Linked DNA regions of Homo sapiens: region 2 is linked to region 1. The links come from fine-mapping of genetic effects on gene expression. A gene starts in region 1. The other region holds a variant in brackets. All regions are shown on one strand. Distances are between the middles of the regions.

Region 1 (11,983 bases):
TCAGGCCGCAGTGCTGGGCGTCGAACGGGAAGGCTGCTACATCCACGCGGCACGAGCTGCGCGTGATGGCCGGCGCGTCCCAGCGCACGGCGCCATCGTGGCGCAGGACCACGTTGGTGCTGGCGGAACCTGGAGGCTGCGCGTCGGCTCTGGGGGCAGGCGGGGCAGGGCTCACCTAGGCTGTCCAGCCTGAGGAGCAGCCCCGGAGGCCGGGAGCCCAGGGCAGACCCCCAGGGGCTGAAAGAAACCAAAACTTCTCCCCAGAATATTGAGGCTCGTTAAGTTCGAGACACTCACGACGCAGGGGAGCACCTGGCCCCAGCGTCTGCTGGCCTGATGGCAGGACATCAGCCCTTCCTTGCTGGAGTCAGCACTTGCTTATCCAAAGGGCACCAGTAGGTGCCAGAGGAATCTGGAAACAGATTTTACCCTCTTTCCACGTTTTCCCGCCTTTTAAAGGTGGCTGTCCTTTGTCTTGCCACTATTTATAACTTACTGGCTCTTTCTTGAATTTCTATTTAAGCAAGGCCCCTAAGTCACTGCCTTCAGAGAGAAATACTTTTGAACTAAGGCCTCTCCCATGATGGGTACAGCAGATTAATAAACTTCTGCTTGTGGCTGGGTGCGGTGGCTCACGCCTGTGATCCCAGCACTTTGGGAGGCCGAGGTGGGCGGATCACGAGGTCAGGAGATCGAGACCACCCTGGCTAACACGGTGAAACCTCGTCTGTACTAAAAATACAAAAAACTAGCTGGGCGTGGTGGCGGGTGCCTGCAGTCCCAGTTATTTGGGAGGTTGAGGCAGGAGAATTGCGTGAACCCGGGAGGCGGAGCTTGCAGTGAGCCGAGATAGCGCCACTGCACTCCAGCCTGGGCGACAGAGCGAGACTGTGTCTCAAATAAATAAATAAACTTGTGCTTGTTTTTTTTTCGTTAATTTGATTCTTGTTTTCAGAACAAAGCAACACAGAGGGTGGAGTGCACCTAGAGAGACCCGCTGCCTTTCGAGGCCTGGAAGGGGTGGTGCCTGAAGGGCCCAGAAGGGACACAGACGTAGCCAGAGGATGTATAAAAAGGCCTCTGCAGAACCCAGAGGTAGCTCCGGGACACACAGTGACTTCCCTTGGGGGACATCTGCAAAACTTGTAGAAGGGCCCCAGAGAAAATATGCAGAGCTATGTGCTGGCTGGGAGACACGGAACTGGTCAAGGAGACATAAAGCAGTGTTCCAGAGGGCTATGTCCTGGAGGAAAGAGACCCTTACACAGGCTCTTCGGGGAGCCCTGAGAGACTTAGAGCTAAAAGTGTGCCCTAGAGAGGCCCTTGTGATTCAGACAACTGCCCTGGACCACACAGTAGGTTCCGAGGAGACGTTCAGCCTGGGCTGGCCTGGGATAGCCTAAAGTGGGGGTGCCATGGAGGGGCTGAGTGCCTGGCAGCTTAGAAGGGTCCTGGGGAAAAGCTTCCAGGGCAGCGTGGCAACCAGGTTATGTGGTAGGGAGAGGGGATCACTACACCCCCACAGCTAAGGGCAAGTCTAGAGAGGGGTAAGAGAGAGGAGGGGCCCAGATAGGCAGTACTTGTTATAGAGTACGATGTCTGGCCGCCACACAAGACTGCTGGGGATGCGGATGGCATCCAGGCCACCATAGGCATTGGGGTCCCATCGTAGGTAGGCATCTGTCCACTCCTGCCGTATCCACAGATACAGGGTCAGCACCTGGTTCCGTTCATCCTAGTGGGGGCAGGGAATGGCAGAGATGTGGACATGTATATGCATATCCTGCCCTGTCTGTGCACACTCCCCTGCAGGGCTCTGGTCAGCACCCACAAACCTGACTTGTCCATACCGTCCAGTTCCCACCCAGACCTGACCTTGCCATGTGACCTTAGTGGGCTCTTCTCTTTTCTGCCCCTGTTTCCTCAGCAGGAATATGGGGTGAGAATCCCTGCTTAGCAGGGATTCAGTAAGTTCAGGTGAACAAAATATTGGGCACGAGGTAGGCACCCAATACTCAGTACCCAACAGTCAGTACCCAACAGTTTGTAACTGCTACCTTTGTTAATATTAACATTTACAGAAAAGAAATTCCATGGAGAATAATCCCAGTCTCTCACCCCTTCATTTCTTGACACTGTGACAGGTAAGACTCCACAGCTGTACCACCACCACAACGCACCATGTCGATGATCTGGGACAGTGTCACCTCCAGGGTCACATTCAGAGTCTGGTCTGTGTCTGCCACAGGTCTCAGGGCACTTGTGTAGTTGGCAAAGAGGTCACGGAACAGCTTGAGAGCCAGCCGGCCCTCAGCTCCCAGGCACTCTGGAGGGTCAGTAAGGAGGGTTGTCCATCCCAGGCCCTAGTCCCAGGGCCTCTGCTCACACCCTCCACTCCCAGGGCTGGGGCCCTGTCCTTATGAGTGTCCTCCTGGTGTCTGCCTTCTCTTGCTCTAGCTGTGGCTCTAGTTCCTCCCTGGCCTGCCTGCAGGGACACATGAGGTAAAGGCCATGGAGTGAACTGGTACTATCTTCTGGCGCCAGGCTGACAAATTTCTCCTCCACCCTCCCCTTTTCAAGGACCTGGAGTCTGCCTGCCTCTCCACAAATGCTAGAGGGGCCCAAATAAGCCACAAGAGTCCAGACTTTCACCCAGGGATTCTAAACCCCACTGCTCTGCCCCCTCCAGTATCTCTCAAACCTGTTTCCACTTCTCCATCTCGAGCTGGTTTCTTCAAAACTTCTGATGCGATGGAACACTCCCTCACTCTGAAAACACACTTCCCCAGGCTTTACTGACACAAATTTTCCTCAATCCCTGACCTAAACATTGTTCCCATGAATCCTGTCCTTGGCTCCCATCTTTTTCTTCATCCCAGATTTTTCTCCTGAGCTCCAGACCCCAATAGAGTACAGTCCACTCCTGAGTTTCCCACAGGCACCTTCAACTCTGAGGGTCCAAAATATGAACTCGCTTCCTCCCTCCATGCTCTGAAACCTGCTTCCTATCCCATGTTCCCTATCTCAGCAAATAGCATGCCCTCAGCTTCAACAGTGACCTTAGTTGGAAATCTGGGAATTATCCCTCCCTTCTCCCTCTGCTGCCTCCTCCTCGGGGAATCCAGTTAATCTCCAGATCCTGTCAGATCATTCAAATCCTCCAGATTTTGCGAAACATCGTCTTGAGTCTACCCTCTCCCCTCCAGGTCAGGGCCCTCCCTTCACTGTCTCCCTTTCCCCAAAGGCTCACCTTCTTCTACCCCTCCCATGCCCCAGGACCACGCTTTTAAGCATGCACATCTGACCAGGCTAGTATGCTGCTGAAACCTTTCAGTGCTCCCCGTCATCTGCAGGAGAAAGACCTGGCCTGGCCGGCAGGCCCTTCAACATCTGGCCCCTCTGATTTTCCCAGCCCTGTCTCTGGAAGCTCCCCGCTCACTGTTTCCACCCTAGCCAGGCAAGTCTCCTCTCACGCACTTCAGCACCCCTCTCCTCCACACTCCCCAAATAGAGAGCTTGTTCTCAGAACAGGTACTGAGGAGAAACACAAGAGAGACTACATGGAAAGGGATTTTGGGAGAACAGGAATAGTAGCACCACCAGGAGAGGCCAGGGCTGGTGTACTGAGCTTCATACCTGCAGGGAGTAGAAACAGAAGCAGAAGGCCCAGGCTGAGGTGGTGGCTCCGGAGCCCCATGGCCCTGGCACTGCAAGAGCGGGGGCAGGTCTCTGGATGTGAGGCCTCCTGGCCAGACCTAGGGCAAAATTAGGCCCAGCTGGCAAGGATGGTGTGGACAGTACCTAGAAGTCAGAAGTAAGACAGATCTCTGGTGGGTCCAGCCACCCTCCAGCGAGCCCTGCAGCCCCTCCAGTCTTCTGACCCTCCAATTTGTGCCTGCCCCTGGATTTTAGTACTTGGTCTTTCTTCTTCTCTGCTGGTCCTTGCCTCTTCTGGCCTCTGCCTCTGCCCTTTCCTATGCTCCCCACCTGCTTTGTCTTTCACTCTGTTTCTGCTTCCTTCTCTTTCCGTCTGTAACTTTCTTGGTCTCTCTGCCTCCCTGACTCTGATCATCCCCTGCCTGCCTCTTTCCACTCTCTCTCCCTTTCTCCTACTTCTGTTTCATCCCTCATTCCTTCCTTCTTCCATTCCCCACACCTGGACTCTAGATGGGCCTGCTGCTCTCTCAGCAGAACAGGGACCAGGGACTCCTCCCTTGATCAGCCCAGAGTCGTCCGAGGCACAGGACCACAGCCCCTCCCTCTCTGCCCTTTCATTAGCTTAATTACACCGTGCCTATGACAACAGAGCAACGGAAACTGATACCTCGGGCCTCTGGGGCTTGAATTATTCAAACTCTGTAAAGCAGCACACAGACTCAGCTCAGGCCCATCCTCGGGTGTTGGAGAGTACAGGTATGCTGGGTCAGGGTATGTGGAAGACCAGGGCTTAAGAGTGTGAGGGGCCAGGGTCAGTGGATGGATAACTGTCCTCTCATCTTAGCCACCATTGCCTGAATTCTGGAGGTGGAGGTTTGCCTTAGACCTGCAGCTCTCCTTGCAGTGCGGGACTAGACACTCCAGGCTAGGCACTTTGGGTCAAGCAAGCCCTTCCCTCCTGGTGGGAGTAGTGCTGAGCCTCAGGCCACTCCAGATGACCCAGTGGAGCAGAAGATGGAGCCCACATCCTCTCCTCAGACTCCCTGCAGTCATTCCCATCTGAGCCTGTTTTTTCACCTTGCCCAAACACTGTGGGCAGTGTGGGAGAAGAGGGCAAGCATTCAGTCACTTTCGGCCCTGTCTTATGAGCGCTCTCACTTGGGTAAGATATTTAAACTCTCTGGGTTTCTGTTCTCTCAATCTGGTAATGGGATTAACAGTACTCATCTTGAAAACTGCAAGGATTTAAATGAGATAACCTGATAGTGCAAGGCACTGTCTAGCACGGTGCCTAAGGTACAGCAGGTCATCAACAATATTTACACTGTGGTCCCAGTAAGGTAGCCAGGCTATCCTCAGGTCACAGGTATTTATCATGCACAGAGTTTTGATTATTTTTGTTCAAGCTGACCAGTTGCCTGACCAACAGCAGCACATACTTCCCTGGCAATCACATCCATAGCCATGACTTTGGGCATCGTGGATATGCCAGTGATTCCCTGCACTTTCTCCACCCGTCCCCTCTCCCAGGTACTCTGCTTATCTCCAACCACCTTCCTAACACACAAGCGTTTCACATCATTTCAAATTGAAATCCAACATTCACTTATTCAAGCTAGTAGAGGGGAACTGTCCTTAACTTGTTAAAGAACAACTACCAAAATACCCTACAGCCATCCTGCCACCTCAGCCTCCTGAATAGCTGGAACTAAAGGTGCACACCACCCAGCTAATTTTTGTTCATTTTTTAAGAGACAAGGTCTCCCTATGTTGCCTAGGCTGGTCTTAAACTCCTGGGCTCAAGGGATTCTCCCTCCTCAGCCTCCCGAGGTGCTGGGATTACAGGCGTGAGCCATCGTGCCCAACCAATACAAGGTTTAACAAATCCTTAGGAAAGCCTAAGAAATGAACATTTAAAGCAGAAATTAAGATTATACAGAACTCCAGTAAAATTGATTAATACGTCTAAGGACTGGTTATTTGAATAACAAAAAATCTGGAACAATTTTCTGGAAATACAAATTAACAAAACTGAGCTAAAGATGAAACATCTAAAAAGAGCAGATACTCTGCAGGCCTTTGCTTAATTATTCCAATATTTAATTCTCCAGACCTCTGTTAACTTTGGGTTCTGTTGAGAAAATAAGTTATTTGAATGTTGTAGATTCCACAGATCTATCGAATGTTGAGGTAACTGGTTCCTGTTTTATGTTTTTGAGAATTTTTTTTGAAATTAAAACATTTTTTACTATTTCAACGGGATTTTGGGATGTGGAAGAGATTGTTCAGGCCTGGCGCGGTGGCTCACGTCTGTAATCCCAGCACTTTGGGAGGCCAAGGCAGGCTTATCACGAGGTCAGGAGATCGAGACCATCCTGGCTAACACGGTGAAACCCCGTCTCTACTGAAAATACAAAAAAAAATTAGTCGGGCATGGTGGCGGGTGCCTGTGGTCCTAGCTACTTGGGAGGCTGAGGAAGGAGAATGGCATGAACCCGGGAGGTGGAGCTTGCAGATCGTGCCCCACTGCACTCCAGCCTGGGGGACAGAGCGAGACTCTGTCTCAAAAAAAAAAAAAAAAAAGAAGAGATTGTTCATCACCCTTATCTTGAACTGGAAGTTGATATTCTCTTTTATGCACAACATGGCTTCTATGATAAACCTTTGATTGAGAACCTTTTTTTTCTTGCTCTGTTGCCCAGGCTGGAGTGCAGTGGCACAATCATGGCTCGCTGCAGCCTTCAGCTCCTAGGCTCAAGCGATCCTCTTGCTTAGGCCTCTTGAGTAGCTGGGACTATGCACACACACCACCATGCCCAACTAATTTTATTTTTTTTTAGAGACAGAGTCTTGTCATGTAGCCTGGGGTGGTCTTGAACTCCTGGCCTCAAACGATCCTCCCACCTTGGTCTCCCAAAGTGCTGGGATTACAGGTGTGAGCCACCACTCCTGGCCCACAATTCCGAACACTGCTAAGAGCTAACCATTTCTATAGCATACTCACTTTCTGAAACATTCCTCTGGTAAGGAAACCAGGTCAGGTGTTCTTTGCTGGAAGTCCAACTATGTTTTGTGACTCACTCAGGTTCACATAGTGAGTCAGTAGTGGAGGGGATTCCAGCTGAGTAACCCCTATCCTGAGGCATCTAAGTTAAATGGAAGTTCCAGACAACAGAGCTGACCCACTCTGCTTTCTCATCCCTGAATTCCTGAAAGTCTCAGAAGTCTTTGGTCTAATCTTAATTGGAATTTGCTCACATCTTCAGCTTGACAGATCAAAATAAGATCTGGAATAGTACTCATGCTACTCAATTGATTCCTCTTGAAAATAGCCCTGTGTGAAGTAACATCAGCAATCATTATCCCCTTTACAAAAGGGAATCTGATTTAGAAAGGTGAAGCGTCACTCAGGGTTTAAAAACAAAACCACTATAGTAGAAGAGCGAGGAGGCTTTGAATGGTATATTCTATTGGGCAATTTGAGACCCGGGAATCTATGTGCATAAATATATGTACAGCAATCAGTATTAATCAATAATCAACTCCCTTGCCCCTAAATTTCCCCTTATAAATCTAGCCTTTGGGCTAATCTATCTTTCAGTTTAGCACCCAATTGTTCTCTTTAGCCCATGGCCTGTCTCCATTTAGAAGGCAAATTCAAAAACAGGCTAAATCAAACAAGGCCACCATAAAGATCCTCAGGGTAAGAAGGCTCAAAAATACAAAGGGAAAGCCAATACCAGGAATGCTATAAACATTTTATTTATTTTTTAAGAAAGTAGCTTCAGAAAAAGAGGAAAATATCTAGATCATTTATTTATACATATATATATTTTTTAATAAAAACCTTTACATTATCTTCATGCATAAAGACCCAGGTGTGGCCATATTGCCTGAGATAGCCCTAACACCAGCTATCTCATGCCATTACCTGGGGCTCCCTATAGCTGTCAGCAGTGTAGCAAAGGCCCTCTGCCTGCCCCTAACGCCCAACTCCATGCCTGCCTCAGTCATGGTTTGTTTTTGCTTCTGGAAGGGGTAGATGGAGGGTGGGAAATGCTTTGGAGCTAACATGGGATGAACAGGGAGGGTTACCCAACCTGCCATTTTTTATCCAAACTCTGCAGGCAAATCCAGACAGAGTCTCAGCAAGACTGAAAACCAGGGACCAAACCAAACTCTGGGAGCTTCCCACAGACATGTCACATGTGACCAAGGGTTCCTGCACATAGTAGTAGCAAAGGTATGGTGTTCATGGAACTCTAAAGGCAGGAACAAAAACAGCCCTGAAGATCAATCCCTCCGTGACAGGCATTCACTTCTGCCCTAAGTGTGTCAGAAAGATCCCATTTTGTTTCCTAACTCAGGCCAACCCTCCTTTGCCTCCAAAATTCAGTGTTAACTAACCAATTACTTAAGAGACGGATCCCTCTTCCTTCTGTGGATAGTTCATCTGTTAAGGATCCATTATCACCTGTCTCACTCCTCCTAAGGAGTCCTAGTATAAAAGGGCCAGGGTAGGAGTAGGGAAGCTGGTTGGCATGGAGGGTCACAAGATCCAGAATGGCTAGGGATGGAAAAAGAATACCCTGGTTCTTTGGGGGATTCTGCCAAAGGAGCTTTATTGACCATTTTTTTAAAGGAAAAACACTGAATGATCTTGAGGATGGTAAACTGTCTCCTCTTCTGGGTTCCAGAAGCCCTTATGCTACGTTCAGTATTAAGAAAAGCCCTGAACAAGTGGAGGATGCTGCTTCTGGCAGCAGGGAGGGAGGGTAGATGCCACAGCCAACCCAGAGAATGGCAAACAGTGCCAATCCAAACAAGGCAGGGAACCTCTGTGTGGTGTGAATGGGCATGTGACTGTGATGCAAAGTGCCTGGGGCTCACAGGCTCCCAACAGCCAGTTCTCGCAGATAGGACTGGGTAAGGCTGCGCAGTTCGTCCATGGCATAGTCCTCAGGCATGGGAAGCCGGCCAATGTGGGGAGCCAAGAGGCGCAAAGGGACTCGCTGAGGGTCTGGTGTTGAGTCGGAGGTTCTATCAGGAGGATGATGCAGACTCAGCACCACGCGCAGCAGGTTGGCTACACGTTTGGCCATGTCTAGAGAGAAAAACTAGAGTCAAGCACTGAGCATGGGGTCTGGAGAAGGGTGGTAGGCACTGAGGGTGGGGTGTAATAATCATAAAAACAGGAAGCAAGAAGGCAGAAAGAGTGAGGAGGTTAGAGGCTTACCTGACTGAGCCAGGCGATCTTTAGCACTGTAACACTGAATCTGCTCTATCCGACTGCACAGTGAAGTCACTTTGATGTGTAACTGCTCCAGGTCATTACCTGAGCAATCCACCTACAAAGAAGCAGAGAAGCCAATTAATCCAAGGGGAGTTCCTATCACTCCAATCCCACCTATAGACTCTACACAAAACCTTGAAACAACAGTGAGGTGAGGGAGGGGAAAATCCAAGATGATGACACAGGGCCAAGCCACCACCATCTAGTGGAGGACAAGGCACTAATTATGCAGTAATAGCCAAGAGGAAGGTAACACAGTTACCTAGCCTTGGACTAGGAAAAGTCTTGAGATCCCGAACTATACAGCAAGCTTTAATAACACAGCACCAAAAATCAAGATAAATTGGGTTCAGAGAGATGGTATGACTTCTAAAGAGCACACAAGGAAGTAAAAAATGCAGCCAGAACCAACATTTAATTTAGGTCCCCTGACTCCAAGTTTATAGCCTTTTCTAAAACACCAAAAAAGCTGTGTGCAGGGGGCAGGAGGATCAAGAGCAAGACAGGTTATTTGCTCTCATGAAACTGATAGAAAATAAATAAGAAAACACAAAACAGTAATAAATCCTGAAAAATCACAAGCCATGTAGATAATTTAAACAGGTGGATGTGGCAGAGAGAAACTGGATAGCTACTTGAGACTGGAGGACCAAGAGAGGCTTCTTTAAGGAGGTCATATTTAAATTGAGACCTGAATAACAAGGAGAGAGCTCAGCTTTCCAGGCAAAGAGAAGACAGCTAAAACCCCCAAAGGTGGGAATTCAAAGGAGATTTACATGGTGACATGTAGGGTAAGGAGAAGAAGCAGAACAAGATAATACTAGAGAGTTTTTATGTAACATAGGTTTTTTTTTTTTTTTTTTGGGAGAAGGGGGGTCTCGTTATGTTGCTCAGGCTGGTCTCAAGCAATCCTCCTGCCTCAGCCTCCCAAAGTACTAGGATTACAGTCATGCACCACCACATCCAGCTATGTGCTGGCACATTGATAGTACCCTTTGCTTAATCCCTATACTTATCAAGCTATAGTAATTGCTGCTTTACTTGTATGTATCTCCCCCACAAAATCATTATTTTGGTAAGGGCAGAACACATACTGTTTACCTTTATATTCCCCAAACCCACTACAGTGCTTGGCATACAGTGAGTTCTCCATAATAGGTTGTGTGAATGAATTACTCAATATTCAATGAGAAAGTGGTTTCTTCAAGTGATTATTTAGAAATGATGTTCTTGATTCATACTAAAAGTACAGCAAACATTGAATTATGTCTATTATGTGCCAGGCACTGTACTAGGAGTTGGAACTTTGATGAGGATAATAATAGATAACAATTATTAAGCATTTAGTAGAGGCCGAGGTCAGGAGTTTGAGACCAGCCTGGCCAACATGGTGAAACCCCGTCTCTACTAAAATACACACACACACACACAAAGCTGGGTGTGGTGGCACACGCCTGTAATCCCAGCTACTGGGGAGGCTGAGGCAGGAGAATTGTTTGAAGCTGGGAGATGCAGTGAGCTGAGATTGTGCCACTGCCCTCCAGCCTGGGTGACAGAGTAAAACTCTGCCTAAAAAAAAAAAAAAAAAGGCATTTAGTACATGAAAGGTACTATGTAAAACACTTCATGTAGATTTTGTTTAATCTTTGTGAAAATCTGTCAATATGAACTATAATCTGTACTACTGTCTACCCCACCCACCTTTTTCTTTCAGACGAGAGAGGTAGTTAACTTGCTCAAGATTACATAGCCAGTGAATTTGGAAGCCACAAATTGAATCTATAAGTCTGCTTCCAGAACTTGAGCTGTTAACCTCTACACTCTATTGCCTGTAACCGTAAAAGACCTTCCCAAAAGGGGCTTATAGCAACCTGAAAATATGAATAAGTAACTACAATATGGTCTGACAGGTGCACTAGTAGAATAATGTACTAAGTATCTTGGTAGTAAGAAAGTGCAATTAATTATCTCTGGGGAAAAGCAGAGAGAAGTAGGGGTAACAGCAACCTAGATCTTAAAAGGATGAGTTTAAGTGTGCTAGGTAGTGTGGAACATAATATGGTTTGTTAGAAACACCAGAAGTAATTTAGTGTGAGTACAGCAGGCTAGCAAGGCTGGAACGTGGAATAAGAGTGGTAGGAGTAAGGCAGGAAAGGTAAAAGCCTCTAAAAGGACTTGAATCCTATATTTATTATAATGAGTTTGGTTTTTGCACCATAAGCAAGCAGTGGAGACTCATTTTACGACTACAAAGACTGACCTTAAGGCTGCGTGCAGGCGTGCGGTAAGCTCATGCCTGTAATCCCAGCAATTTGGGAGGCCAAGGTGGGCCGATCACTTGAGGCCAGGAATTCAAGACCAGCCTGGCCAATGTGGTGAAACACTATCTCTACTAAAAATACAAAAGTTAGCTGCGTGTGGTGGCACACACCCTATACTCCCAGCTACTTGGGAGGCTGGGGCATGAGACTCACTTAAGACTGGGAGGCAGAGGTTGCAGTGAGCCACGATCACACCACTGCACTCCAGCCTGGATGACAGAGCAAGACTCTGTTCCAAAAAAAAAAAAAAAAAAAAAACTGACCGAAGACATTGACTTTAAAACCCATATTTGCAATTTTAAAACATGCCAAATGATGTGTAAAACAGCTATCCTCACCCTCACCAAATCTCCATTCTTATTTTATCTCTCATCTTTGGGCTTCTCACTCAAACTAGGACTGAACAAGGGGAAGAGACTGTCTATGGACAAGCCTCAGGAATGTCTATTGCACATACTAGTTGGTAATCAACATAAAATAGCATTTTTAAGTTTCGATATAGCTGTCAGAAACGGTTATATCAAATGAGCCTCAGCAAGATGCCTGCTTTGACAGTGCTATCTCTGTCAGTGCATTCTCAAGTGTATACTAAGGCCTTGTGAGGTATCTGAAGATTTAAGGGCCTGAGAAAAGGAAAATCAGGCAGCAGTTTCAGGATCTCAGGTACCTGCTGTATATGGCGGAGCATTTCAATGACTCTAATATAGTCCAG
Region 2 (12,540 bases), 79 kb after region 1:
GTACTGTGGGCTGGGCGCGGTGGCTCACGCCTGTAATCCTAGCACTGTGGGAAGCCGAGGAGGGCAGATCACCTGAGGTCAGGAGTTCGAGACCAGCCTGACAAACATGGAGAAACCCTGTCTCCACTAAAAATACAAAATTAGCTGGTCGTGGTGGCACATGCCTGTAATCCCAGCTACTCGGGAAGGCTGAAGCAGGAGAATCGCTTGAGCCCGGGAGGCGGAGGTTGCAGTGAGCCGAGATCATGCCATTGCACTCCAGCCTGGGCAAGAAGAGCAAAACGCAGTCTCAAAAAAAAAAAAAAAAAGTACTGTGAGGTTTGAGTTGTCTGTAAAGGGATTATCATAAAATGACTTGACTACTGACTATTGCAATGGAAAAATAGGTATTTTTATCCAGATCTGCCTTGTTTTATGCACAAATGGCTTTTTATGTTTAATGAAAGAAGTAATGGTCCACAATTTGAGAGACATTCTGAGTGTGATGTTGTGTGATACAATAAAGTTCTGGTAATTTGTCAAGATAGGAAAAATGTGCTATATTTATGATTAGCTGTAGCAGTTATAAAGAAGCTATATGGGGGGCAAAATGGTAATAGTGGCCTTAGAAACTCCAAAGAAAATCAAGAAAAAATTGAAAATGGTTATTTTCCTTTTGAGATATTCCAAAATTGTTAGAATTTAAATTTATCTGAGGCATCTATTAGCACCAGAAAGATTTTTCTATGTCTCTCTTAGTATTACAATCAACCTTCCTATATGTAGCCATTACTTCAAGGAAAACCTGTAGAACAAAGGTTTATTATTATTACTAAATAACCAAGGCAGTGGTGTGCAATTGATAGTGCTAATGATGTTAATATCACTATAAAACAAGAAATTGTTATGTCCATGAGTTAATGAATGTTTCTTAGTCTCAACACATGGGGCGGGAGAAAATCACATGCCAAGGGTCAGTATAAAACCTTTTATACTAAGATTGGTTTCTTACATCGAAGCATACAAAAATATCTTATGTATCTGTACATTTAATATTTGTGTAACAACTACTCATTAAGTACCCAAACGCCCACATTACAGGAGGCTTGAGTTTGAATCACCATCACTGAAAATAAGAAGCTGCAGAGAAACACCCACTTAGCTATTGCCTCCCAAAAATACAGCCTGAAGCTATAGTGCTAGTCTACCTGTTAAACCATGAAATGCAGAGTTCAGGAACGTGGGTGTTTATATGCAAGTCTCAGGAAATGTTCCTCCCAAACCCAAGGGCCTGCTTCAGCAGATGTGATCATCAGGGAATTGCAACAGTGTGTGTGCTTGCTGACTCACAATTCTCATTTCCCTACATGATATGCTGCTGCTAAGGTTGGGGGTGTAAAATTCTTAATTGATTGTATTCATCTTTTAGTTTATAGGAGAGGCATGTATAAGGAATATACAACAGCAACACAATGCAGTTTGTTTATTGTGAGAGAGAACTGTTGAAGAAAAACAGAATATATTAAAATAAAATGTTAGGATATTACATTATTGTGGAATGAGAGACAAAAGCATCAGAAAAAGAATTATAGAGTCTTGGAATATGGGGGAAGACATTGCTAATCATAACCTACAAGATCCAGGAGCCAAAGTAATTCTGATCACATAAAAATAAAACTTGTGGCTGGGCGCAGTGGCTCATGCCTGTAATCCCAGTACTTTGGAAGGCCGAGGCAGGAGGATCACGAGGTCAGGAGTTCCAGACTAGCCTGGCCAAAATGGTGAAACCCCATTTCTACTAAAAATACAAAAATTAGGTTGAGGCACAAGAATTGCTTGAGCCTGGGAGGCAGAGGTTGCAGTGAGCCGAGATCACACCACTACACTCCAGCCTGGGCAACAGAGCAAGAGTCCATCTTGGAAAAAAATAAAACTTGTGGCCCAGCACAGTGGCTTATGCCGGGAGGCTGAGGCAGGCAGATCACCTGAGGTCAGTCGTCCAAGACCAGCCTGGCCAACATGGTGAAACCCCATCTCTATTAAAATTACAAAAATTATTAACAACAAAAAAAGAAAAGCCTTCCTTAATTTGAATTTGAGCAAAAGAAAAAAAAGAAAAGAAAAGCCTTCCTTAATTTGCCCGTACCAAAGCTATTTTTTCCTACAGGGTTGGAAGAAACCATTATTTGATTTCAGATGATATATTCTGAATATGTTTAGGGATCACACTGTACAACAAAATGAGAGCTTTTGTTTTTATTTCTTGCAAAATTTATGTGGTAGAAGTTGGATAAGTTGAAAAGCTCAAATGAAATGCTTTCTGGGGTATAATGAGGAATTTTCATTAAAAAAAAAAAAACAATTATATAACCAAAAAGAGTTAATATCCACAATACACAAAGAATCCTTAAAAATAAATTAAGAGGGCCGGGCGCGGTGGCTCACGCCTGTAATCCCAGCACTTTGGGAGGCCGAGGCGGGTGGATCATGAGGTCAGGAGATCGAGACCATCCTGGCTAACAAGGTGAAACCCCGTCTCTACTAAAAATACAAAAAATTAGCCGGGCGCGGTGGCGGGCGCCTATAGTCCCAGCTACTCGGGAGGCTGAGGCAGGAGAATGGCGTGAACCCGGGAAGCGGAGCTTGCAGTGAGCCGAGATTGCACCACTGCAGTCCGCAGTCCGGCCTGGGCGACAGAGCGAGACTCCGTCTCAAAAAAAAAATAAATAAATAAATTAAGAGGCCGGGCACAGAGGCTCACGCCTGTAATCCCAGCACTTTGGGAGGCCGAGGCTGGTGGATCACTTGAGGTCAGGAGTTCGACACCAGCCTGGCCAACATGGTGAAACCCCATCTCTAACTAAAAAAATACAGTTAGCCGGGTGCAGTGGCACATGCCTGCAATCCCAGCTACATGGGAGGCTGAGGCAGGAGAATCACTTGAACCCAGGAGGCGGAGGTTGCCATGAGCTGAGATCACACCATTGTACTCCAGCCTGGCAACGAGAGAAACTCGGTCTCTAAATAAATAAATAAATAAAATATAAATTAACAAGAATCTCAAGTTAGTGGTAGGTGCAGAAAAAAAGAAACAATAATCCAACACTATGAACAGAGAACTGACTTAAATGGCAAATAAAAAAAAAAACAAAGATATTCACCTTTGCCAGTAATCAGTGAGGTGCAAACTGGAATGTACCAATTTCTACTGTCATGTATGAAAAGACAAAAAAGCCCAGTATGGAAAATACAGAAAAATGGGCATTGTATATAATGTGAGCAACACAAACTGGTATTTTTGAAAGGCAAATTAGCAAATTCAACCAAAATCTGAAATATGCGTATATTCCAACACTGCAATTCCAATTTGATGTATCAATCCTACAATAAACTAACACCTGCAAAATTATGTAACAAAAAATGTTCACTGAGGGTTTTGCCAACATCATCAAATAAATGTCCATCAATAGGTGAAATGTTAAATAATGGTATATGTATGATGTGTGTAAATTGTGTGTACTTAATGGAATACTAAATAATTTTTTTTAGGAATGAGACTTTTCTCTGGAGTGCAGCGGAATGATCACCGCTCACTGCAGTCTCAACTTCCAAAGCTCAGGTGATTCTCCCACCTCAGCCTCCCGAGTAGCTTGGACTACAGGCACATGCCACCAAGCCCAGCTAACTTTTTGCATTTTTAGTACAGAGAGGGTCTCCCTACATTGCCCAAGTAATCCGCCCACCTCAGCCTCCCAAAGACCTGGCATTACAGGCATGAGCCACCTCATCCAGCTCTAAATAGCGTTTTTCAAAATGAGATTGATATGTATGTACTGACCAAAAGAAAAACTGGTATTATGTGAAATGAAAATACAAGTCACAGAACACTATGTAAGACAGTGCTTTCAAACATTTTCAACTACAGCACATGCAATGAAAATCACTGAGATCCGAAACACATAAACACAAACACAACTGAGACAAAGTTTCATAAAAGGATACTAACCTTAACATTTTAAATGTTTTTTTTTTGTTTTTTGTTTTAGGACAGCGTCTCATTCTGTTACCCAGGCTGGAGTGCAGTGGTACTATCGTAACCCACTGCAGCATCTACCTCCCAGGCTGAAGCGATCCTCCCACAGCACATCTCATTCAGCTGCTTGAGTAGCTAGGACTACAGGCACATGCCACCATGCATATCTATTTTATTTTATTTTTTTGATAGCATCTTACTATGTTGCTCAAGATGATGTTAAACTCCTGACGTCAAGCAATCCTCCTGCCTAGGCCTCCCAAAGTGCTGGGATTAGAAGCATAACCCATTAGGCCCAGCCTACTGATTTTTAATTCTACTTCATTTTCTTCAAATGCTGATTGCAGGCAACTATATTAATTATAACCAACTAATGCACCTCAGTCTCTGGCTTAAAAGTCACTCATACAGGGTGTAGTTTCCATTTAAAAATATAATCCCAGGCCGGGCACGATGGCTCACACCTGTAATCCCAGCACTTTGGGAGGCCGAGGCGGGCAGATCACCTGAGGTCAGGGGTTTGAGACCAGCCTGACCAACATGGAGAAACCCCGTCTCTCCTAAAAATACAAAATTAGCTGGGCATGTGGGCACATGCCAGTAATCCCAGCTACTCGGGAGGCTGAGGCAGGAGAATAGCTTGAAACCAGGAGGCGGAGGCTGCGGTGAGCCGAGATTGTGCCATTGCACTCCAGCCTGGGTAACAAGAGCAAAACTCCGACTCAAAAAACAAACAAGAATATAATCCTAAACCCTAAATATAAAAGACATGTATGTACAGACGTGTGTGTGTGTAAACATGTCCGAAAAATGCACAGAAACGGGTCTGACAAGATACATGCCAAACAACCCTAATCATTTCACAGCTGAAAAAGACTGGACTTTTCATGAAATTTCTGAATTGTTAAAAACTTTTTACCAGCACTTACATCTTTTATCTTAAGCAGAGAGCACTGACTCATGCCTATATTCCCAGCACTTTAAGAGCTCAAGGCAGGAGGATGGCTTCAGCCCAGGGGTTCGAGACCAGCCTGGGCAAAACAGGTCGACCTCATCTCTCCAAAATATTAAAAAACTAGCCAAGCATGGTGGCTTGCACCTGTTGTCCCAGTTACTAGGGAGGCTGAGGTGGGAGGATGGTTTGAGCCTGGGAGGTAGAGGTTGCAGTGAGCTGTGATCATGCCAATGCACTCCACCCTGGGTAACAGAGCAAGAACCTGTCTCAAAATAAAACACCTTTTATCTTAAAAAGAAGACTGAAGGCTGGGCGCGGTGGCTCATGTCTGTAATCCCAGCACTTAGGGAGG[T/C]TGAGGTGGGAGGATCACGACGTCAGGAGTTCGAGACCAGCCTGGCCAACATGGGGAAACCCTGTCTCTACTAAAAATACAAAAATTAGCTGGGTACGGTGGCGTGCGACTGTAGTCCCAGCTACTCGGGAAGTGGAGGTTGCAGTGAGCCGAGATTATGCCACTGCACTCCAGCCTGGGGGACGGAGCAAGACTCCATCTCAAAAAAAAAAAAGGGAAATTGAAAAAAATAAAAATAAAAACCACAAAAGCAGATCATAGTACAAAATGAGGTTCCATTAAGAAGGAAATGACAGCCAGGCACGGTGGCTCACACCTGTAATCCCAGCACTTTGGAGGCCAAGGAGGGAGGATCACCTGAGGTCAGGAGTTCAAGACCAGCCTGACCAACATAGTGACACCCCATCTCTACTAAAAATACAATAATTAGCCAAGGATGGTGATACACACCTGTAATCCCAGCTACTAGGAAGGCTGAGGGAGGAGAATTGCTTCAACCTGGGAGGCAGAGATTGCAGTGAGCTGAGACTGCACCACTGCACTCCAGCCTGAACGACAGAGTGAGACTCCATCTCCAAAATAAATAAATAAATAAATAAATAAATAAAAAAGAAGGAAATGACAGATGAATGCTCAGATGATAGAAGGGGAAAAAAAAAACAGATTAACTGGACAGTGGAAGCAGACTATGGAAATGGTTTGCAACTAAATGACCACACCTGCAGTCAAACGAATTGAAAAAGTAGGCAAAACTCTATGTTTAACTAAACAACCTAGTTTTACTGTACATGCTAAAACACTTATATATTTTATGACCATCATCACGCTCCAGCTGTTTAAAAACAGCTGGGCAGGTAGAAGGGTCAGTATCTTCAAAGGCACTGAAAAATAGTTGTTAACAGTAGGAATCAGGGAAAAGGGGTGACACTGGTCTATATGACAATGGAACTAAATGAAATTCTCCTTGCAAAGGAGAATTACATCAGCATGTGCTCTTATTGCTCTGCCTTTCTATTAGGGCTTACTTTGATGAACAGTTTAAGGTCTCAAATCCCTGTTACAAAAGTAACATGGGGAAACTGAAAGTTAATGTCCTCATGACAATTCTCACATTAAATACTAAAAATCCCAAAAAGACCAGGACTATCAGAGGACATTTTGTAGAAAAGGGAGCATACAGCTTCTAACACAAACATGCCAATATTTTAAAGCCTGGTAAAGCATAACTGCTGGGAATGTCTTATAAACGCAACTGGAAAAACGAAAAGGTAGACTTCTTAATTCCAGTAACATAATCAAACAGATCTCTCAAGTTCCAGAAACTAGAAAGTCAAGCTGTGTCACTTCCTAGATCTCATGGTAGCAGTTTCTTACCTGTTCCAAATCCTGCACCAAGCCCAGTTCCAAGAGTCCCAGGTGCTGGTTTACTTCCAAAAATACTATTCCCACTGGTATTTGTGCCAAAACCTAGGAAGACAAAAGAATGAGTGGATTGTACTTTTAATATAACTCTCAATTTCCTCTATAAGGGAGTTTAACACAAAGCAGTCTGACTTTAAGTTGTGAACCTTTCAGTTAATATTTAGGACTCCTAACTTGTAGGATAACTTAAAAAAAAAATTTCACATATGCAAACAAGTCTTCATATTTACTTAATTACATTTCAGCCTTGAAATATCAATTCAAAGGCCATGCGCGGTGGCTCACGCCTGTAATCCCAGCACTTTGGGAGGCCGAGGCTGACAGATCACCTGAAGTCAGGAGTTCAAAACAAGCCTGGCCAAGATGGTGAAACCCCGTCTCTATAAAAATACAAAAAAAAAAAAAAAAAAAAAAAAAAAAAAAAAAAAGGCCAGGTATGACGGTGCGTGCCTGTAATCCCAGCTACTCGGGAGGCTAAGGTGGGAAAATCGTTTCAACCCAGGAGGCAAAGGTTGCAGTGAGCCTAGATTGCGCCACTGCACTCCAGCCTGGGCAACAGAGCAGGACTCTGTCTCGAAAACAAATAAAAATAAATAAATAAATAAAATAAAATAAAGAAATATCAATTCAATATAGGATAATATCAATATTCAAGCAAAGTGAACACACTTGAGCTTTGGGAACATTGCCTTTGTAAGGCCCAAAGCTTTCAATGCAAGTTTCAAGTTTATTTAGAAGAGAAATTAATTCCCCCTAACTTGTACTAAAAAAAATGAAACAACTGGCCAGGTGTGGTGGCTTACGCCTGTAATCCCAACACTTTGGGAGGCCAAGGTGGGCGGATCATGAGGTCAAGAGTTCGAGAACAGCCTGGGGAACATGGTGAAACTCTGTCTCTACAAAATATACAAAATTAGCCGGGCATGATGGCGCATGCCTATAAACCCAGCTACTTGGGAGGCTGAGGCAGGAGTATCACTTGAACCCGGGAGACGGGGGTTGCAGTGAGCCAAGATCGTGCCACTGCACTCTAGCATGGATAGAGTGAGACTCTGTTTCAAAAAAAATACAAAATAAAATAAAAATAAAACAATCAACAAAGACACTTTAACTGAACCTAAAGGTCCTTGCTAAGAAAAAAATTACTTACAAAACTTTCCACAGTAGCTTTTATTTTGAATAGATGAACCTAGCCAGGATAGTAACGTGTAGCTGATTACACGTGAGAAGTCTTCTTCACTATGACCCACCATTTAAACAAAATCCTATAATTTCCCTTTAAAATCCACAGGTATCAGCCAGGCACGGTGGCTCACAACTGTAATCCCAGCACTCTGGGAGGCCAAGGTGGGCAGGTCACTGGAGTTCACAAGTTCAACGCCAGTCTGGCCAACATGGAGAAACCCCACCTCTACTAAAAATACACAAATTAGCTGGGTGTGGTGGTGCACACCCAGAATCCCAACCACTTGGGAGGCTGAAGCAGGAGAATTGCTTAAACCCGGGAGGCAGAGGCTGCAGTAAGTCGAGATCGCACCACTGCACTCCAGCCTAGACGACATAGCGAGACACTATCTCAAAAAAAAAAAAAAAAAAAAAAATCCATAGGTATCAAACAAAGATCCTATTCTGTACTGCTGCCATTACTTTTCTTTTCTTCATCTATGCCCACAGTTTCATTATTCTTTTTGTAAATAAATATCAACAAAACAATTAATGAATATGTCATTAATTTCTCATGAGAGAAAAGAAATCATTAGCCAGAAAACCCTGTTTGCAGAACATATGAAGTCATTTAAAAGTCATAAAGCACTGGGCATGATGGCTCACGCCTGTAATCCCAACACATTGGGAGGCAGAGGCAGGTGGATCACTTGAGGAAAGGAGTTTAAGACTAGCCTGGCCAACATGTGAAACCTCTTCTCTACTACCACGAAAAAAAAAAAAAAAATTAGCTGGCTGTGGTGGTGCACGCTTGGAATCCCAGCAATTTGGGAGGCTGACGCAGGAAGATCGCTTGAACCAAGGAGGCAGAGGGTTACAGTGAGCTGAGATCACACCACTGCACTCCAGCCTGGGCAACAGAGCAAGACTCCGTCTCCAAAAGAAAAAAAAAATCATGGAGGAAAAAGTAGCCCAAAAAGATAACAAACAGAATAAAGAGACTATTTTAGAACAGATGAAAGTATCACTAATATTATACTTTGTTGTGCCAGTATTTGGATTATTATCTCAATGAAAAAAATCAAGAAGAAAGCTGAAGAATATAAAAGTTTAAAAACAATCGTATTTCATGTCATTTTAAAATTCAAGCAAGCAGGCCGGGCGCAGTGGCTCACGCCTGTAATCCCGCCACTTTGGGAGGCCAAGGCAGGTGGATCACAAGGTCAGGTGTTCAAGACCAGCCTGGCCAAGATGGTGAAACCCCATATCTACCAAAAAATACAAAAATTAGCCGGGTGTGGTGGCAGGCGCCTATAATCCCAACTACTTGGGAGGCTGAGGCAGAGAGCTGCTTGAACCTGGGAGGCGAAGGTTGCAGTGAGCCAAAATCACGCCACTGCACTCCAGCCTGGGTGACAGAGAAAGACTCCATCTCGAAAAAAATAAATACATGAAATAAAATCCAATCAAGTAACCTGACTTAATCGCAATATATTTGACTTAGACATTCATTGAATCTCTTCTTTAATTCTTCTAATAGCTATGCCACAAAAATGGGGTGCTGCCTACTCAAGCATCATCAATTTTCCTTGATGAAAACACAAAAAATGTACTTGGAGATATTCTTTTCCTTTTTGAATAAAAATTTAATCAAAAGGGATCTTACAGTCCCATAAGCAGCAGAAAACAAGACACTCGTGAACTATCTCAAACCCACAGAAGGGAAATAAATCCCAACTTACACTGTTTATACCACACATTTCCTCCGATTCTCACTGACAAGTTTATCGACTTGTAAAATTCAATTTTACAAATTACAATTAAAAAGACAATTCAAATTCGGCACACAAGTTGGTGAGACAACTCAGATAAAGATGACACCTTTCATTTTCATATCACTGAAGATGACTGTAAATATATTCGCACACCAAAAAAAAACCTCTAAGCAAATCAGAAATCTGCAACCATCACTGCAACTTCTGCCTCCTGGGTTCAAGTGATTCTTCTGCCTCAGCCTCCCGAGTAGCTGGGATTACAGGCATGCACCACCATGCCCAGCTAATTTTTGTGTTTTTAGTAGAAATGGGGTTTTACCATGCTGGCCAGTCTATCTCGAACTCCTGACCTCAGGTGATCTGCCAGCCTCGGTCTCCCAAAGTGCTGGGATTACAGGCGTGAATCACCACACTCGGCTTGTTTTTGTTTTTTGGGGAGACATCATATATATCTTAATATACATCACATATAACATCAAATATATCTTTAAAAAAATTTTGTCGGCTGGGCGCAGTGGCTCACGCCTGTAATCCCAACCTTTTGGGAGGCCGAGGTGAGCGGATCACGAGGTCAGGAGATCGAGACCATCCCGGCTAACATGGTGAAACCCCGTCTCTATTAAGAATACAAAAAAATTAGCCAGACGTGGCAGCATGCGCCTACAGTCCCAGCTACTTGGGAGGCTGAGGCAGTAGAATGGTGTGAACCCGGGAAGCGGAGCTTGCAGCAAACCGAGATCGTGCCGCTGCACTCCAGCCCGGGCGACAGAGCGAGACTCCATCTCAAAAAAAAAATATATATATATATCTATATATCTATATCTATATCTATATGTGTATATATATATATTTTATCAAGTGTAGCCTATACAAACACCCTTATAGTGTTCAGATAAAAATAACGGGCTGGGCGCAGTGGCTCATGCCTGTAATCCCAGCACTTTGGGAAGCCAAGACAGGCAGATCACCTGAGCTCAGGAGTTCGAGGCCAGCCTGGGTGACATGGCAAACCCTGTCTCTACAAAAACACAAAAATTAGCCAGGTGTGGTGGTGCATGCCTGTAGTCCCAGCTACTCAGGAGGCTGAGGTGGGAGGATCACTTGAGCCCAGGAGGCGGAGGTTGCAGTGAGCTGAGATCACACCACTACACTCGAGCCTGGGAGACAGAGATCCTGTCTCCCCAAAAAACAAACAAAACAAAACAAAACAAAAATGCCGAGCGTGGTGGTTCACACCTGTAATCCCAGCACTTTGGGAGACCGAGGCTGGCAGATCACCTGAGGTCAGGAGTTCCAGACTAGACTGGCCAACATGGTAAAACCCTGTTTCTACTAAAAATACAAAAATTAGCTGGGCGTGGTGGTGCATGCCTGTAATCCCAGCTACTTGGGAGGCTGAGGCAGAAGAATCGCTTGAACCCAGGAGGCAGAGGTTGCAGTGAGCTGAAATCGCGCCACTGTACTCCAGCCTGGGTGACAAGAGCGAAACTCCGTCTCAAAAAGAAAGAAAAGAAATAATATTTAATTTTGAACATGAAGCATGCTACAAAAAAAAGAGCTTTATTAAAAACACACATTTTCAAAGGGAGTGGAAATTGGTTCTTGAGGGACTAAAATATCACAGATTATGATAGTTTGTGGCCCTCCAGAGAGTCACACAACATAAGCAGATACACAGTATATGCGTGGTATGAAAATCTCAGGGGAAGGGAGATGATGATTAAGAAAAAACAGGCCAGGCGTGGTGGCTCACGCCTGTAATCCCAGCACTTTGGGAGGCCAATGCCGGCAGACCATGAGGTCACAACATCGAGACCATCCTGGCTAACATGGAGAAACCCCGTCTCTACTAAAAATACAAAGAAAAAATTAGCCGGGGGTGGTGGTGGGTGCCCGTAGTCCCAGCTACTCGGGAGGCTGAGGCAGGAGAATGGCGTGAACCCAGGAGGCAGGGCTTGCAGTGAGCCCATATCTGGCCACTGCACTCCCGCCTGGGAGACAGAGCGAGACTCCGTCTCAAAAAAAAAAAAAGAAAGAAAAAAGAAAAAACAGTCCCATTACAGCAGGTACAACTTAAAAATGAAAAAATAGTCTACAAACGGTCCATGGGGAAGGGTAAGTGATAATAGAAAAGGTTGAGAAACGCTAACTGACCCTTAACTATCTTTCCATTTTAATTTTATAGGAAAGAAATAAGTAGGGATGGGTGCAGTGGCTCACGCCTGTAATCCCAGCACTTTGGGAGGCCGAGGAGGGCAGATCGCCTGAGGTCAGGAGTTCAAAACCAGCCTCGCCAACACGGTGAAACCCCATCTCTACTTTAAATACAAAAATTAGCTGGGCATGGTGGCAGGCGCCTGTAATCCCACCTACTCAGGAGGCCGAGACAGGAAAATCACTCCAACCAGGGAGGTGGAGGTTGCAGTGAGCCAAGATTGTGCCATTGCACTCCAGCCTGGGAGGGAGGGGAGAGAGACAGAGAGAGACAGAGAGACAGAGACAGAGACAGAGAGAGACAGACACCAAGTATCTTACCCATGGTAACCAAGTCCACTGCCTCAAAACGGTTGTTTCAAACAGAGTTTATAGGAACTATAATCATTTCTGGCAGTGAATGAGCAAAATGACTAAAAGGGATTATAAAAATCAAACCAAACACATCAATTTAGGAATTGGTACCTATCAATGAACTATCTACCTTCTTCCTGTAGTTGATAAACATATTAATCTTCCAATAGATGTTTAATATGATCTCTTTCTCCAGTACAGGATCGTTCAAAAGCTCATTAAAAAACTGTTAACTGCTGACCTACACCAAATAACCATGTCTTTGTACTCAACTCCTAAAAAGAATCTATCA

The links. PIP is the estimated chance that this variant, and not a neighbour inherited with it, causes the effect.
Region 2: its variant is the best candidate, but not a certain one, in a credible set for the expression of CHRNA10 in whole blood (INTERVAL, PIP 0.60).

Annotation. Positions count from the first base shown.
Region 1 is chr11:3,667,616-3,679,598 of GRCh38, forward strand. CHRNA10 (cholinergic receptor nicotinic alpha 10 subunit) reads right to left here and starts at 3,769. Exons shown (of 5, transcript NM_020402.4): 1 at 3,637-3,769; 2 at 2,181-2,326; 3 at 1,581-1,735; 4 at 1-149. The coding sequence starts at 3,697. NUP98 (nucleoporin 98 and 96 precursor) reads right to left here. Exons shown (of 33, transcript NM_016320.5): 31 at 11,939-11,983; 32 at 8,894-9,005; 33 at 7,404-8,761. The coding sequence ends at 8,544.
Region 2 is chr11:3,746,623-3,759,162 of GRCh38, forward strand. It overlaps NUP98 (nucleoporin 98 and 96 precursor), which reads right to left. Exons shown (of 33, transcript NM_016320.5): 11 at 6,694-6,786. Among named protein-coding and RNA genes, the nearest start is that of NUP98, 45 kb to the right of the region's middle. The variant T/C (reference allele first, on the strand shown) is at 5,320.